2 linked regions of the Homo sapiens genome follow. The protein of the gene in region 2 interacts with the protein of the main gene of each other region in a pairwise test. Each region holds a gene or a part of one and is shown on either strand. Other genes may lie near its edges.

Region 1 (3,500 bases), on a different chromosome or scaffold from region 2:
ACATTAAAAATGTAGTGGCTAGGAATCACATTTTCTTTTTATGGTAGTAATAATAAAAAATAGCTATTATTTGTTAAATAGCTAAAGTGCTTTATATACTGTGCTAGACACTTTACATACATCACTAACTATTACAACCATATAAATACAAAAAAATGAGGCTCCAAAAAAGTTAAGTAACATGCCTGAAATCGCGCTGCTAGGAAACAGCAAAGTTAGCATTTGAACCAAAGCCCATATCCTTCTTCATGCAGTGCACAATCTCTGTATGTCACAAAAACTAAGAATAAAGTACACATGTGCCTCCAGAGAGTAGTTAGTTCAAATGAGTACTGAGTATGAGTGATTAAAAAAAAAAAAAAAAAAAAAGAATACCTAGAACATAAGAGTCATTTGGAAGGGCATAATCAGCAGATATTAATAACCTGTATCTTACCTCCAACTGTAATATACCCATGCAAGTCTACTCGTATTCACCTCTCATTCCAAACAGAATATGGTTTTGCCTCTGCAAAACCATAACAGGTTTCACATTTGGAGTTATAAAAGAAATGTTCCCAAAAGCAGAAGCATAAGAGAAGGAAAGGGAGGTTGGCCTTGTGCGGCAAAGGTAAAACTTTATCTTATAGGATATTAAGTAGATGTTGAGAACTGGGAAAGCGATGGCAAAAGAGTAGAAGAGGTGTTTTGCTTTTTGTTTGAGACGAAGTTTTTGGTCTTATTGCCCAGGCTGGAGCGCAATGGTGCAATCTCAGCTCACTGCAACCTCCGCCTCCTGGGTTCAAGCGATTCTCCTGCCTCAGCCTCCCGAGTAGCTGGGATTACAGGCAACCGCCACCATGCCCAGCTAATTTTTGTATATTTAGTAGAGATGGGTTTTCACCATGTTGACCAGGCTGGTCTTGAACTTCTGACCTCAGGTGATCCACCCACCTCAGCCTCCCAAAGTGCTGGGATTACAGGTGTGAGCCACTGCACCCAGCCTGTTTTTTTTGTTTTTTTGTTTTTTGTTTTAAGAAAAAAGAAAGCCACAGATAGAAAAACAAGTGAAAACAAAAATTACAGAATAGGAAGATAATACTCAGAACTAAGGCATGACATAAAGACACAAGAGTTCATTTTCTTTTATAATCTTCCATCATTACTCCACTTTAAAGAGTATAAAGAGCACAGATTACTGATTCCTAACTTTGCAGAAGTGAATTGATCCACTGTAATCAGTGATTACAGCAAAATTCTCCAGAATGAGTTTTCAATCAAAATGTGCTTCCAAATATATTGAAAGAAAAAAAAAATCTAGGAGGCAAGCAGACTTGAAAGCTTTAAAGGCACACAATAAAAATGCCAAAAAGCCACTATTTTTCATTAAGGTAATTCATTAATATCTTCAAACCTTATTCATGAATTTAAATTATTAGGATATTTAAACATTAATTATTCTATCCATATTTCTTTACTTCAGAGATTATGAAAAAGGGGGTTATAACTCAGTGGTAGAGCATTTGACTGCAGAAATTATGAAAAACGAAAAACAAAACTTCTGAATCCTTAGAATTACATCTTTTCTTATATACTAGGAAGTGAAATTGGGTATCAGCACTCCTTTCATTGAACAATCTCACAAAGGTACAGAAGAAAGTGCAAGTCCCAGCAATAAGATAGGATGTACCCACTTCTCTAAGGACCTAAAAGCCTATCAGCGTTTTATTTTGTCACTGTCAACCTCTTAAATGATCACCTTTGTTATTGCTTTCTGGTTTTCACCTCTAAGCGCACTGCTTTCTAAAAAACTGAAGGTCAACTTGGAATTTCAGAAACAAAGTGAAGATCTGAATTCTGAGCTTTTAAAATTGTAGTAACATACTGTAACACATGAATATATGTTTTATATACATCAATATAGATTTTATCTACTAGATCAAAAAAAGCTCCAGAAAATTATTATGAATTCATCCTCCTTCTAAAACACTAAAGAATGAAAGTGAGATTTTTTTAAAAAAGATAAGTAAGATAGAAGTAAGAGAACATGATGGTTTAGCAAGCAGGCAACAGTTCACTAGCGGACAGCAGTTTATTGGTTTCTCTCAGCAGTGAAGTCTCCTCCTCTTGGGTGGTTTGCACTGTGACTGCAGCTGCGTACCTTTGGTGGTATCAGATATGCTATTTAACAAGGCACACATCATATCTCCCTCTAAGTGGTGAGGGTTTAGTATATGAGCTGGCCTCTGAGTCTTCTTAAATTGATTCTCTAGCTCCAGAAAACCTTGATCTCCTGAGAGGATGGTGAAAGGAATTTGCTTGGGTAGTTGTTCATCTAGACGGCCAGCCTAAGTTAGAACAAATGGCACAGGTTGATAAAAAATCAGCATGAGTTTCAAAACAAGTTACATCTATTTCAGAATGAACACATGCCTAGGAAGGTATATTAAGCTTGTTCCCTAGTCCCTACCAAAGTATGACATAAAGATCTCCTTCAGCTGGGTGCAGTGGCTCACGCCTGTAATCCCAACACTTTGGGAGGCTAAAGCAGGTGGATCGCTTGAGGTCAGGAGTTCGAGACCAGCCCGGCCAACATGGTGAAACGCGGTCTCTATTAAAAAATGCAAAAATTAGCTGGGTGTGGTGGCATGCGCTTGTAATCCCAACTACTCGGGATTCTCCAGGCTGAGGCTGGAGAATCACTTGAACTCGGGAGGCAGAAGTTGCAGCCAAGATCGCGCCACTGCACTCCAGCCTGGGCGACAGAGTGACACTCCGTCTCAAAAAGGAAAAAAAAAAAAAGAGAGAAAGAAAGAACTCGTTCATAAATGAAATACCCCACATTTAATCAAATATAAGATGCCATTAAATTATATAAGCTATTTAATGTGCCATGAAAAGAAAAAGCCAAAATGGAAGTCCAACAGACCTCACATAAGGTTGAAATGCCAAAGGGCTATACGCTCAATATAAGGGTAAATAAGAAATAAATCTGCCATAGAGAAAAGGTAAGCAAGGCAATTTGCATGATTCAATCTTGGCATTAGATAGACTGAAAAAGAAATCTTTTGTTGTTTAAACCATAAGCTGCAGTCAACAAGTTTGCAGAGTAAATTCACATTATCAGTGTGACATGTAAGTCCCCAAGCAGAAAATTTAAAGTGGGTCTCAGTTTGGCAGTTTCTCTAGGTACCCAGCAGAGACAGAAGCAAATGCAAATTCTGTCTAGGCCAACAGTGATTGTTAAGGTACCTCTTAATTTTAGAGATATTAAAATATGAAAGTGTCTTAATATATATCAAATACAGTATCATCAGCAGGGCGCAGTGGCTCACACCTGTAATCCCAGCACTTTGGGAGGCCTAGGCGGGCAGATCACTTGAGGCCAGGAGTTTGAGACCAGCCTGGCTAACATGGAGAAACCCCGTCTCTACTAAAAATACAAGTATTAGCTGGGCATGGTGGTATGCTCCTGTAGTCCCAGCTACTTGGGAGGCTGAGGCACAAGAACCATTTCAGCC
Region 2 (4,164 bases):
AAACCTGATATCCCTCCGAGTATCCTGTAGAGTCATTCCACCTAGGGGAGGAAGGGGGCTGCTGTTAACCAGAGCTGGGCCGGGCTCTCCTTCTCCTGGGTTCACCATTGGTCCCAGGGCCAAAAAAGGGCCCAGAGTGAGTCTCTCAGGGGGTCACGGATGACTGGGATCAACTCCTGCTCTGGAGTCCTCAGAAAGAGCCACACGCACACCCAGACACCCCCCTTTCCTGTTTTACACACATGCACACTCTCACTGTAAGTCTCACAACACCGGCACAGGTGCTCGGCCACACCCCAGCACGCACAGTGACACATGCTACTCCAGGTGCTCCCTTCATCCTGGAGGCAGAGGAGCCTTCACAGCTGAGCCCGAGTGATGGGCGCTCTTCCAGGCACTCATCCTTGTGGTGGGCTGTGGTAGCAGGAGCTCAAGGGCCATTCACACCCTCCCCTTCCCAGCCTCACTCAGCTCTGGATTCAAACCGGGGCTGATCAGGCAGCACTGGGATTGGGAAGAGACCCGAGTTGCAGTCACCCTTTCCCGTAAAGGGGCAGAAGGGAGGAAGCTGGAACCCAGGGGTTTGGAGAAAGTTCATGGAGAGGAGACCGGGAACTAACAGTCCAGACTTCAGCATCTCCGGAGCTTTCAGGAGTGGGCGCAGCGGGAACAAGGCCAAGGAGAAACCTCGTAACCTGGGCAGGGAGGGCGAGTGGAGTCCCCTGAGGAGCTGGGGCTGAGGGCTGAGGGCTGAGGGCTGCCCTCCACATCTAACTCCAGGTGGTGTCCGGGCCAGCAGGCCCCCCAGCAATCGTCTCCCGCCCATAGAGCCCTCCCCTCTCTGCAGCCCCCTCCCAGACCCTCCCCCGGACCCCGCCCTCAGAATCTCCGCCCAGCCCCGTCCCAGCCTTGCCCCCTGGAGCTCCCGACCTGGCCCGGCCTTCTCCCAGGGGACCTGGCTTAAAGTCCTCTCCCCAGTTTCTACTTCGAAGGACCCGTTCTCGCAAGCACAGGGGCCCAGCCCTCTCTCCCGCCTGCCCCCACGGCTCCCGCGGCTGGTTTCGAATCGGGTCCTCGGGACTCCAGGCGAGGGGCTGCGGGTCTGGGTGGATCGGGGTGGAATCCGGGTGGAGAATGGGGGCGGGGCCGGAGTTTCCCAGACCGACCCCCCGGGCCGTCCTCCCGCGGGAGCGCGGCGCTGCACACCCGGCTGGCACCGGCGACTTAGAGACGGCAGCGCACGACTCGCTGGCTCCCCCCCGACACGGCCCCTCCTCGTTCCCCCAACTCCTCCCCGCCACCCCCCCACCCGTTCGCGCTCCACCTTTCCCCGGCTCCTCCCTCCGCGGCCGCGAGCACCCTCCCTTGGCACCCTTCCCCGCAGCCCGAGTGCCTGTCCTCCCCAGCCTCCTCGCCCTCCTCCACCCCCTCTCCCATCACCCTCCCCTCCCCTCCCCTCCCCTCCCCCGTCCTGAGCTCCCACTTCCACACCTACTCCAGGCTCGGAGCCTTAGGACCATCACCTGCCCACCTAAGCCCACGGTGCTCCCTCCTGGGACCCCACTCCTGAAACCCCCTGCCCCTGCCTCCCCCAGCCCGGTGCGCCGGGGCTCTCCGCCCGCTCCCTCGGTCCCTCCTCCCTTGCAGGCGCCGTTTCCCGGCTTCGACTCCCCGCGCGTCTATCCCTCTCCTCCCCGCGAAGTTTCGGGGCTGTCAGTCTGTCAGTCTTTCAGGCCGTCAGCACCCGAGCTGCAGGCGGCGAGCGCCATTGTGAGCAGAGCCGGCGGGGCAGGAGGCCCGGGCGCCTGGGTCCCCGCGGCGCGGGCGGAGCGGCCGGCCAGCCAGGTAAGGGCCGGGGAGGCTCCTCTGCAGGCGGCCCCGCCCGCGTCTCCCTCAGCGCCGCGGTTGGGTCACGGCCGGCTCCGCGCAGGTGACAGCCCCGGGGGTAGGGGCGCGGACGGCGGGCGTGGGGGAGGGGCGCGGGTCCGGGGAGGTCGGGGGCTGGGGGGAAGGGAGGGCAAGGCCGGCGCGGGCAGGGTGAGGGCTGTGGGGGTAGAGGAGACCGGGGGGGCTGGAGGGAAGGGCGGGGGCTGGGAGGGGGTCGGGCGGGAGGCAGGTGGGAAGGGGGACGACGGGCCCCGAGGGGAGGAGAGAGGGAGTGTGGGAGGGGGCCGAGGGGGAAGGGGAGGAAGAAGCGGGCGCTGGGGACCGGGCCACTCGGTAGGGGCGGGAGAGGAGGGCGCTGACAGGTGAGCCCCGGAGCTGGGGAGGGGGCCGGGACCTGGAATGAAGTCGGCGATCGGAGCTGCTTGGGAGGGCGGCGGGGCAGGGAGGTGGAGCTGAGGGTCCCGTCGGGAGGAAAACTTGGGAGGGGTGAGAAGTCCGAGGGGAGCAGAAATAGGGAGGGGGCGCCGCGGCGGAGAAGAGAGGCGCGGAGGGGTGTTCGGAGGGGAGACGGAGTGGGGAGGGCAGGGCCCGCGGGAAGGTCCCGAGAGAGCGGGTCAGCCCTAGACCCCCAGGCTTGGGGGCCGGAGGACCCGGGAGCTGGGAAGCAGCCTGGGAGGGGGGAGGGGAAGAGCGGTTCTGGGGACTGGGGACGGGGAGGGAAGCGAAGCTGGAGCCTGCTGGGGAGACAGAGGGGGAAGGGAGGCGGGGGCCTCGGAGGGGAAGGAGAGCTGCAGAAGGGAGGGGGGAGGGGGAGGGCGGTGGGGAGACGTGGGGGAGGGCTGGAAAGGGGGAGGGGAAGGGAACCGAGGTGAGGCGAGGAAAGGAGAAGGAAGGGAAACCGGGGTGGGGGAGGAGAGGAGGGAGGGGAGAGGAGAACTGGGTTGGGGAAAAGAGCTGAGAGGAGGAGGGCGGGGGTTGGCGAGGAAGGAAAAGAGGAGGGGGAAAGGAAGGGAGAGGGTGTGCAGCCGGGGAGGGAGATGGAGCGGGGGAGAACCGGGAGGGTAGGGAAAGGCAGCCTGGAGTCTGAGAGGGGGAGGGGAGCGCTGCCGCCGAGGCGGCCCGGAGCGTAGGGTCAGGGGAGGCGGTGGCAGCGGAGGGCCGACCCGGACGGGGCCTCGAGGGGTTGGCCCTGCCGGGCTCGGGCGGGCGGAGCCTGAGGGGCGGGGCCGGGGGCGGAGCCGAGGCGCCGGCCCGATTCGCAGGGGAGAGAGGGCGGAAGGCAGAGGGAGCGGGAGGGGCGGGGCAGAGGGAAGGCTGCCGGGGAGATGGGGGAGGGGAGTCTGCTGGGGGAGGGGCGGGGGAGCCGCGGAAGGCGGAGCAGGGAAGGGGCAGCAGGGGCGGTGTCCGGGCCTTGGGCAGCCCGGCACGGGTGAGAGGTGGTTTTGTGGTAGGGGTTTAGGAAGAGGCGATCATTTTCTAGCTACAAGAGGATCCTCTCGAGGACCTCCCCAAGCAGTACCCCTAAAGTGACACTCACTCCCGCCCCTGGGCTGGCTCCTATTTCACCAGCTCGGGCAGTGACAGCTGGAGGACCTGGGAGATGAAGTTTCCCACTCCCCACCCTGGGCTCCCACCCTCAAGCCTCTCCCCAGAGAATCGAATCTTGCCTGCACTTTCCCAGGCAAGGACGCTGGGGCGTGGAGTTGCGGTGCTGATGGGCCGGGGTTGGCGGTGACAGACCTGCCAGGTGAGGGGGTGGCGCGGCTGGTTTCCAGAGCTGACAGAAATCGTTTCAAGGCCTTCTTGGGCCACCTTCAAAGATCTCTTGGCTTGGCTTTCTAAACCCAGTTTCCCAAATTTCCCCCAGCTGTACCTGGGGATGTCACCTTTGGAGCTCCTGGAAGAGCCCATAGGGAGAGGTTGGGCAGAGCCAGGGCCCAGGTGGAAGCTGGCGTGGGAAAAATCTGAACAAGGCTGTCTTTTCTCCATAGGTTCTGTGGCCTGATCCCCAGGAGGAGCTACTCTGGGTTACCATGAGAGAGACCTTGGAGGCCCTCAGCTCCCTGGGTGAGCTGGCAGAAATGAAGGGACTTGGGGAAAAGCTTAGGAGGATTCAGGGGCATCTACAACTCAGACAGCAGAGCCACCCTCAGGAGGCTGCAACCCTGAGGCCCCAGGGGCCTGTAGGTCAGCCTCCTTTTCTGTAGCACGGGGTGTCTGAATGCCTGGAACATGGTGGAGGCTGCGCTCTAGACCATATGTGCACTTGAGCACTCA

The links. Proteins that work in one complex are often made in the same cells at the same time.
Region 1: the proteins of ZNF467 (region 2) and ZNF451 interact in a two-hybrid assay, tested with the Homo sapiens proteins (one large-scale study listed by BioGRID).

Annotation. Positions count from the first base shown.
Region 1 is NC_000006.12:57,152,688-57,156,187, reverse strand, and holds part of ZNF451 (E3 SUMO-protein ligase ZNF451), read right to left. Parts: intron 2,328-3,500; coding exon 2,141-2,327; intron 1-2,140. UniProt on the Homo sapiens protein: E3 SUMO-protein ligase; has a preference for SUMO2 and SUMO3 and facilitates UBE2I/UBC9-mediated sumoylation of target proteins. Plays a role in protein SUMO2 modification in response to stress caused by DNA damage and by proteasome inhibitors (in vitro).
Region 2 is NC_000007.14:149,770,789-149,774,952, reverse strand, and holds the start of ZNF467 (zinc finger protein 467), read left to right. Parts: upstream 1-1,364; 5' UTR 1,365-1,845; intron 1,846-1,865; exon of another isoform or gene 1,866-1,930; intron 1,931-2,191; exon of another isoform or gene 2,192-2,249; intron 2,250-3,456; exon of another isoform or gene 3,457-3,487; coding exon of another isoform or gene 3,488-3,568; exon of another isoform or gene 3,569-3,634; intron 3,635-3,878; coding exon of another isoform or gene 3,879-3,920; coding exon 3,921-3,954; intron 3,955-4,164. UniProt on the Homo sapiens protein: Transcription factor that promotes adipocyte differentiation and suppresses osteoblast differentiation in the bone marrow. Enhances the osteoclast-supporting ability of stromal cells.